Linked DNA regions of Homo sapiens: region 1 is linked to region 2. The links come from fine-mapping of genetic effects on gene expression. A gene starts in region 2. The other region holds a variant in brackets. All regions are shown on one strand. Distances are between the middles of the regions. Region 1 has its middle 7.4 kb from the start of CD2BP2. Region 2 holds the start of SEPTIN1 (septin 1).

What was found. PIP is the estimated chance that this variant, and not a neighbour inherited with it, causes the effect.
Region 1: its variant is the best candidate, but not a certain one, in a credible set for the expression of SEPTIN1 in caudate (GTEx, PIP 0.89).

What each region holds. Positions count from the first base shown.
Region 1 is chr16:30,345,763-30,350,150 of GRCh38, forward strand. No RefSeq gene overlaps it. Among named protein-coding and RNA genes, the nearest start is that of CD2BP2, 7.4 kb to the right of the region's middle. RefSeq lists an enhancer at 1,970-2,469. The variant T/C (reference allele first, on the strand shown) is at 2,325.
Region 2 is chr16:30,380,476-30,384,863 of GRCh38, forward strand. SEPTIN1 (septin 1) reads right to left here and starts at 2,086. Exons shown (of 11, transcript NM_001365977.2): 1 at 2,050-2,086; 2 at 1,800-1,890; 3 at 1,618-1,704; 4 at 1,285-1,408; 5 at 864-998; 6 at 652-769. The coding sequence starts at 2,067. It also overlaps a transcript of ZNF48 not described here.

The sequences.
Region 1 (4,388 bases), 35 kb before region 2:
ACCACTGCACCCCAGCCTAGGAGACAGAGCAAGATTCTGTCTCAAAGAAAAGTCAGCAAATTAAATTTTAACCAGATTTAAAACTTTTGTTCTTCAAGATGATGACAGAAAAAAAAAAAAAGACAAGTCATGGATCAAGAAAATATTCACAAAACAGAATCTGACAAAGGACTCATTATCTGGAATATCTAATGATCAAGGTCTCTTACAAGTCAATCAGAAGACAAACAATTCAGTTTTTAAAACAGGCAAAACATATGAGCAAACACTCGACCAAAAATTTTGACAGGACTTTAGAGTCCCACAGACCTCGGTTAAAATCCTGGCTTTACCACCCTCAGGCTATGTGATGTTGAATGTCACCTCTCTGAGCCTCATTTTTCTCATCAGCAAAGTGGGAGAGATACGTAACTAAATAGGTAGTCAAGGAGATTAAACATAATATTCTGAACTTATTTAGGTCCCTAATAAATGCCAGACACCCTCTTCTTCCCCTGTCAAATAGAGGATGTATATATGTATACATACAAATATATATATATATATACACTTTTTGTGTGTGTAGAGATGGAGTCTGGCTATATTGCCCAGCTGGTCTCAAACTCCTTGGCTCAAGCCATCTGCCCACCTCAGCTGAGATTACATGCCTGGCAGAGAACGGGCTTAGTGTGTAAGCCGGGGAAGGCTGGGCCAGGTAAGAGGTCTCAATGTCTGAGGCCAGAGGGCAAATGCCCACATTGTATCCAAAGGAATGTGAAGTGTTCAAGACAGAAAAATGTGTCCCAAAGAGTGCACTGGAGCTACAAGGTCTGAAGCCACCAAGAGCTGCAAGGCAGCTGTATGGGGAGGGAATAGGGATGGGTGGGGTATCAGGAAAGTAAGAGCAAGTACGATGGCATCAGAATGGAGAAACTGGGCTGGGCACGGCAGCTCATGCCTGTAATCCCAACACTTTGGGAGACCCAGGCAGGAGGATCATTTGAGGCCAGGAGTTTGAGATCAGCCTGGTCAACATAGTGAGACCCCACGTCTATAAAAAATAAAAATAAAGGGGCTGAAGTGGGAGGATCACTTGAGCTCAGGAGGTCCAGCCTGCAGTGAGCTATGATCGCACCACTGCACTCCAGCCTGGGCGACACAGCAAGACGCTGTCTCTAAAACTAAATGGCAGAGCGCGGTGGCTCACAACTGTAATCCCAGCACTTTGGGAGGCCAAGGCAGGTGGATCACTTGAGGTCAGGAGCTCAAGACCACCCTGGCCAACATGGCAAAACCCCATCTCTACTAAAACTACAAAAATCTGCTGGGCGTGGTGGCGGGCGCCTGTAATCCCAGTTACTCAGGAGGCTGAAGAAGGAGAATTGCTTGAACCCGGGAGGCGGAGGTTGCAGTGAGCCGAGATCACGCCACTGCACTCCAGCCTGGGCAACAAGAGCGAAACTCAGTCTCAATAAATAAATAAATAAATAAATAAATAAATAAATAAATACAAATAAATAAGAAGAGGGAAACCAGAGGCTGCCAGCGCCTGCTGCTGACTTTTACAGGCAGGTCATGTGCCACGTCTGCATGGGCAGCTGGGAAGCTGGCATCTTACATAAAGGGACAGAGAAGCCTCCTGGGGAACAGGGGCCTAGCGGGGACAGGATTGCAGCCACCTGCAGCGGCCAACTGGAGATGGCAGCGGTGGCCCACCGCAGGGGGTGTAGGTGGTCAGGGGCCACTGAACCCTCCCCTGTGGAGCATACCCCCGAGGGTGCCCGGCAGCTGGGGACTGGGCTCCACAGGGAGTTCAGAGTGGCTGCTGACTCCACGGAGCACTGTTGTTACTTGGGCCCCACACAAAACATCTACCTTGAAATCCATCCTTGGGAGAAACTCCTCTCAGGTCTTGGCATCAGGAGGAGCTGGGCATGTCCAGGTCTCCGGCTTGGTTCCTGCCGGGAGCAGAACGGAAGGCAAGTAGCTCAGCCTGACCCCCTGCCTGGGAGCCTGGGTGAAACGACTAGCAGCACGTCATCAAGCTGGCCGCACTGCCGCTCTAGGGTCTGGGTAACTAGACACTCCTCATGGGAAGGGGTGGCAGATGTGGCAGAGACGTGAAGAGCCCTCATTCCTCCGGCATGAGGAGCCGGAGCCTTCACTTATTTGAACCCTGCTGGACTCCTGTGCAGGCCTTGTCTCTCACAGGGCCACAGCAGCTGCCCAGGACAGAGTCTGACGCCCCAGGCCTCTGTCAGGAGTGCCGAGACTTCCTTCCCCAACTCCTGCTACTTCTCTGAAGAATAACCTGGCCAAGGCAAGAGGCTGCATTCAGGCCTGGG[T/C]GCCATGGCTCACGCCTGTAATCCCAGCACTTTAGGAGGCTGAGGTGGGCGGATCACCTGAGGTCAGGAGTTCGAGACCAGCCTGAGCAACATGGTAAAACCCCGTCTCTACAAAAAAAAATTGCAAAAATTTAGCCAGGAATGGCGCCATGCATCTCTTGCTCCAGCTACTAGGGAGGCCGAGGCAGGATTACTTGAACCCAGAAGCCTGAGGCCGCACTGAGCCATGATTGCACCATTGCACTCTACCCGGCTTGACAGAGCAAGACCCGGTCTCAAAAAAAAAAGTTTTAAGTGAAAAGCAAAGAACTTCACCTCTGTGGTCTTCCTCCCTAAACTCCATAAACCAAACCTATTCATGAGAAAAAGGATCAGACAAACCCAAATTTTAGGAATATTCAACTGGGTGTGGAGGCTCACACCTGTAATCTCAGCACTGTAAGAGGCTGAGGCGAGAGGATCACTTGAGCCTGGGAGTTCAAGAACAGCCTGGGCAACATAGTGAGACCTCATCTCTAGAAAAAAAAAAAAAAACATATATATATATAATGCGTATATATAATGCGTATATATATATGCGTGTATATGTGTATATATATATGCATGTATATATATATAATGTGTGTGTATATATATATATATATATATACATTTTAAATTTATAAAGTTGTTTTTAAAAAGAATATTCTGAGGCCAGGTGCGGTGGCACACACCTGTAATCCCAGCACTTTGGGAGGCCGAGGCAGGTAGATCACCTGAGGTCAGGAGTTTGAGACCAGCCTGACCAACGTGGTGAAACCCCATCTCTACTAAAAATACAAAAATTAGCTGGGCATGGTGGCACACGCCTATAATCCCAGTAACTCGGGAGGCTGAGGCAGGAGAATCACTTGAACCGGGGAGGTGGAGGTTGCAGTGAGCAGAGATCACACCATTGCACTCCAGCCTGGGTGACAGAGAGAGACTCCGTCCCCCGCCCCCCGTCCGCCAAAAAAAAAAAGAATATTCTACAAAATACAAACCAGCACTCCTTGAAACTGTCAAGATCAACAAAGGTGAAGCCTGAGAAGCTGTCAGGCTGAGGAAGCTAAGTAGATGTGACAACTAAATATAATGTGGTGTCACAAGGGATCCTGAAGCAGAAAAGGACATTAGGGGAAAACTAGAAAAATAAAAAAAAAGTGTGAAGTTGAATTAGTAAGAAAAATTTTAAAAAAGGGTGAAGTTGAATTAGTATTAATGTACCGTACATCCACACAATACACTGTTATTCAACAATAAACAAAAGGACTGGGCACGGTGGTTCACGCCTGTAATCACAGCACTTTGGGAAGCCAAGGGGAGCGGATCACCTGAGGTCAGGGGTTTGAGACCAGCCTGGCCAACATGGTGAGACCTAGTCTCTACTAAAAATACAAAAACTAGCTAGGTGTGGTAGCACAGGCCTGTAATCCCAGCTACTTGGGAGGCTGAAGCAGAATCGCTTGAACCCAGCAAGCAGAGGTTGCAGTGAGCCAAGATCGTGCCACTGCACTCCAGCCTGGGTGACAGAGCAAGACTCCGTCTCAAAAAAAAAAAAACAATAAACATAGATGAAGATATCCACATGGCTGAACTTGAAAGCATAGGGCCAAGTAGAAGCCAGACCCAGAAGACCACATATATGATTCCATTTATCTTCAATGCCCAGAAGAAGCAAATCTAGAGGCAGGAAGTAGATGGGTGGTTGCCAGGGCTGGGGGGTGAGGAAAGGTGGGGAGTAGTGAGAAGGGGCTACTCATGGGTCAGGTTTCTTTCATGGTAGGAAAAAAAGGTTTTAAAATTAGACTGTGGTGATGGTTGCACAACCCTGTGAATATACAAAAAACCACTGAAGGGTACTGAAGCGTGGTGGCAGGTGCCTGTAGCCCCAGCTACTCGGGAGACTGAGGCAGGACAATCCCTTGAACCCAGGAGGCAGAGGTTGCAGTGAGCTGAGATCGTGCCATTTGCACTCCAGCCCGGCAACAAGAGCGAAACTCCATCTCAAAAAAAAAAAAAAAAAAACTTACTCAAACAAAAAGT
Region 2 (4,388 bases):
ACTTTTTGTAGAGATGGGGTTTTACCATGTTGCCGTGGCTTGTCTTAAACTCTTCAGCTCAAGCAGTCCACTGACCTCAGCCTCCCAAAGTGCTGGGATTAACAGGTGTCTGCCACCAAGCCCAGCCAAAAAAATATTTTTTAAGTTAGCCAGGCATGGTGGTGTTCATCTATAGTCCCTGCTACTCAAGAGGCTGAGGCAGGAGGATCACTTGCGCCTACAAGTTCGAGGCTGCAGTGAGCTCTGATCTTGCCACTGTACTGCAGCCTGGGCCACAGAGTGAGACTCTATCTAAAAAAAAAAAGAGAGAGAAAGAGAGGCCGAGAGAGATATAAGCAGAAACAGTGGGAAAGGGCTCTGAAGACACGGGGTGGGGGCCAGAGGGAAGTCACTATGTTCTCATGTCTATGCTCCTGCCCTCAAATAGGCCTCAGCCAGGCATCTAGCCCGGGGGCTGCATATGTAGCCTATTTTGAGCCTTCAGAGACATGGCTATGCTGGCGGCTTACCACCCGCCTTCCTCAGAAGCTTCTCCTACAATCTAGCCTGATGCACCATGCTCCAGAAAGGCCACTTCAAGATCAAAGAAGTCTAAGCTGAAATCAGGTTTGGCTTCACATGGGGTCAAAGGTCAGAGGTCATCACTCACACCTTCTGCTTGAGGGCCTGGGTTTCCTGGGGCATCAGAGCATCCGCTTTGCCAATGACTGGGATGATGTTGACTTTCTCGTGTACTGCCCGGAGGAAGGCCACATCTAGGGGCCGGAGCCTGCACCCAGGGATTGGTCATTGCCCAGCCTCAGGGGGCAGAGACCCCCCAGCCCTCCCTAAATGCGCCAGCCCCCAGGATCCCCCCACCAGACCCCCGGCCGAAGGGTGAGATGAAGTAGAGGCAGCAGTGGACTCGGGAGTCCTGGATGTTCTTCCGGTTCAGGCCACTCTCATCCCTAAGGTACTGCTCAAATTGCTCCTCGATGAATTTCACCACCGGAAGCCAGCTGGGTGTGGGGAGAGGATGTGAGGTCAGAGATCAAAGGCCAGAGGGCAGGGGGCAAGGCTAGCCAGGACTGTGGGAGTAGAATGTCATTTCTTTGGCTCCCTCCAAAGACATTAAGGGGAACTGGTGGGGGCCTAGGTGAGTCATCAAGAAGCACAGGGACCCAGTGGCCCTCTGAAACAGACACCACCTTTTGAGATAGGGAGCCAGCACAAACCAGTCCTGTAACTCTCCAGGGAGTCGCCACTGTGAAAGGCTGAGCCTCTGTCCCCTTTCCTCTTCCTCACCAGTCAGAGCAGTCCACTGAGTCCCCAAAGCCAGGTGTGTCCACAAGGGTCAGCTTCACTTTCACACCCCCTTCCTCAATCTCTACGCCCCGGCGCTCAATGGCCAGGGTCTGTGTCAAGCGAGCTGTGGGATGGGGGAGAGGTCAGGGATCCGGGGAGGCTCTGAGGCAGAATTAATTTCCTTTGTCAATATCACAGTTGCCTGCACCCATTTCCCAGGGGAGGAAAGTCTCAGAAAAAAAGCAGTCAACTACCTGAGTCCCCAGATGGAAAAGACTAGGGTGTAACCTGGGGACAGGGGCTACTGCCTCAAGAGGGTGGGGAGGGTCTTACCACTGGCCTCTGGCACCTGGCGATCCTCATAGAGGTTGGTGAGGAAGAGGCTGTTGATGAGGGTGGATTTCCCTAGGCCTGACTCCCCTGTGGACAGAACAGGCCCAACTGGTCAGGGGAGGGGACAGCCAGGGCCTCCTAAGGACATCCCCTCCGCAGTTCCCTCTCCAAAACCCCCAGACCTGCCACCATTAGCGTGAAGTCAAACCCCTTCTTGACAGACTTGCGGTGCAGCTGGTTGGGGAGGGCAGCAAAACCCACGTACTCCTTGTCCTATGGATGGGGGTGGACAATATGAGGCTGCTGGCAATGGCAGGCAGGGTCCCCAGGATCACTTGAGTTCCTGGGCTAGGAAGAGTCAGTGGGGTCTGGGGACCCCAGGCATGGGGGCTGGGGGCCGAGATGCCCAGGTTTCTGGGTGTAAGGACTCACCATGACTCCGCCAGCCATCACTGCACCTGCCGTCTCTCCCCACTTCCTCTGGTGGGGCAGGAAGCTGAGTGCGGCTAACAAGGGGGCGGGCAGAAGAGGCAGCTGAGATGCTCAAACTGGCCCAGTCCCAGAGAGGTGGGGAAGGCCAAGGCCAAGAACACTTGGGGTTGCCACCTCCTGGACCCCTTTGCCCATCACCTGTCTACGTACCTTCAACCCTCCATCCTTCACACATCTGGATTCCAAGTCCCACTGTAGCTCCATCATCGTGGTGAGACATGGGGTATGTGCAGAGAGGAAGGAAGTGGCTCCCTTTGTTAGCAGGGGAGATGAAGGTTTTGATGAGCTGATTAGAAAACAGTTCCCAGGACGGGCAAGGTGGCTCTCGCCTGTAATCTCAGCACTTTGGGAGGCGGAGGAGGGAGGACAGCTTGAGCCAAGGAGTTCCAGACCAGCCTGGGCAACAGAGGGACGTGCCCCTCTACCATCTCTACAAAACATTAAAAAATTAGCCAGGCATGTTGGTACAATCCTGTAGTCCCAGCTACTGGGGAGGCTGAGGTGGGAGGATTGCATGAGCCCAGAAGATCAAGACTGCAGTGAGCTGTGATCACACCACTACACTCCAGCCTGAGCAACACAGCAAAACCCTGTTTCTTTTTCTTTCTTTCTTTCTTTTTTTGAGACGGAGTCTCGCTCTGTTGCCCAGGCTGGAGTGTAGTGGCGCCATCTCGGCTCACTGCAAGCTCCACCTCCCGGGTTCCCGCCATTCTCCTGCCTCAGCCTCCCGAGTAGCTGGGACTACAGGCACCTGCTACCGCGCCTGGCTAATTTTTTTGTGTTTTTAGTAGAGACGAGATTTCACCGTGTTAGCCAGGATGGTTTCGATCTCCTGACCTCGTGATCTGCCCGCCTCGGCCTCCCAAACTGCTGGGATTACGGGCGTGAGCCACCATGCCAGGCCAACGCTGTTTCAAAAAAAGAAAAAGAAAAAAGTGGACCAGAAGCCATGATGGGATTGGGAGTGGGTGAAGCCATACATTTTCCAGCTCAGACAATGGATTCATAAAAGGACTCCAGGTCTTTGGACACCACTGCCCGAGAGATTTTCCTTCAGAATCCTGGCCAAAGAACTCCACTGCTCAAAATCCTTCAGGAACTCCCCAGTAACTCAGAGTCAAGTCTGAATTCTGGCCTGACTGCCAAAGCCTCCCTCAGCTGGCCTCATCACCCCATCTCTCACTCTTCCAAACGTCCTTGGCTCTCTACCCACATTGAGCTTTTCCTTTTTCTGAATCAGTTAAACTCTTCCTCATCCTTCAAGTGTTTCTTTCCAAGGGCTCTGCCTCTATGCAATCTCTCCACCTACCCTAGGCAGGGTCATTGTCCCTCCTTCAGATTCCCAGCACCTGGCTGGCGTGGTGGCTCACACCTGTAATCCCAGCACTTTGGGAGGCCGAGGCGGGTGGATCACTTGAGGCCAGGAGTTCAAGACCAGCCTGGCCAACATGGCGAGACCCTGTCTAGCAAAAATACAAAAATTAGCCAGGCATGGTGGTGCGTACCTATAATTCCAGCTACTTGGGAATCTGAGGCAAGAGAATTGCTTGAGCCCAGGAGGTGGAGGTTGCAGTGAGCCGAGATTGCACCGCTACACTCCATCCTGGGCAACAGAGCAAGACCCTATCTCAAACAAACAAACAAACAAACAAATCTACCTCAGGACCGCTGCGGTGGCTCACACCTGTAATCCCAGCACTTTGGGAGGCTGAGTCGGGCAGATCACGAGGTCAAGAGATTGAGACCATCCTGGCCAACATGGTGAAACCCCATCTCTACTAAAAATACAAAAAATTAGCTGGGCATGGTGGCATTGCCTGTAGTCCCAGCTACTCAGGAGGCTAAAGCAGAATTGCTTGAACCCAGGAGGTGGAGGTTGCAGCGAGCCAAGATCGTGCCACTGCACTCCAGCCTGGTGACAGAGCAAGACTCCGTCTCAAAAAACAAAAAACAAACAAACAAAAATGCTACTTAATACCATCTAGGGACTGTTAAGAATCTGGAAAGGGGGGCTGGGTGCGGTGGCTCATGCCTGTAATTCCAGCATTTTGGGAGGACAGGGCAGTCGGATCACTTGAGGCCAGGAGTTCGAGACCAGCCTGGCCAACATGGTGAAACCCCCGTCTCTACTAAGAATACAAAAATTAGCCAGGCATGGTGGTGCACGCCTGTAATCACAGCTACTAGGGAGGCTGAGGCAGGAGAATTGCTAGAACCTGAGAGGCGTAGGTTGCAGTGAGCCAAGATCCTGCCACTGCACTCCAGCCTGGGCGACAGGG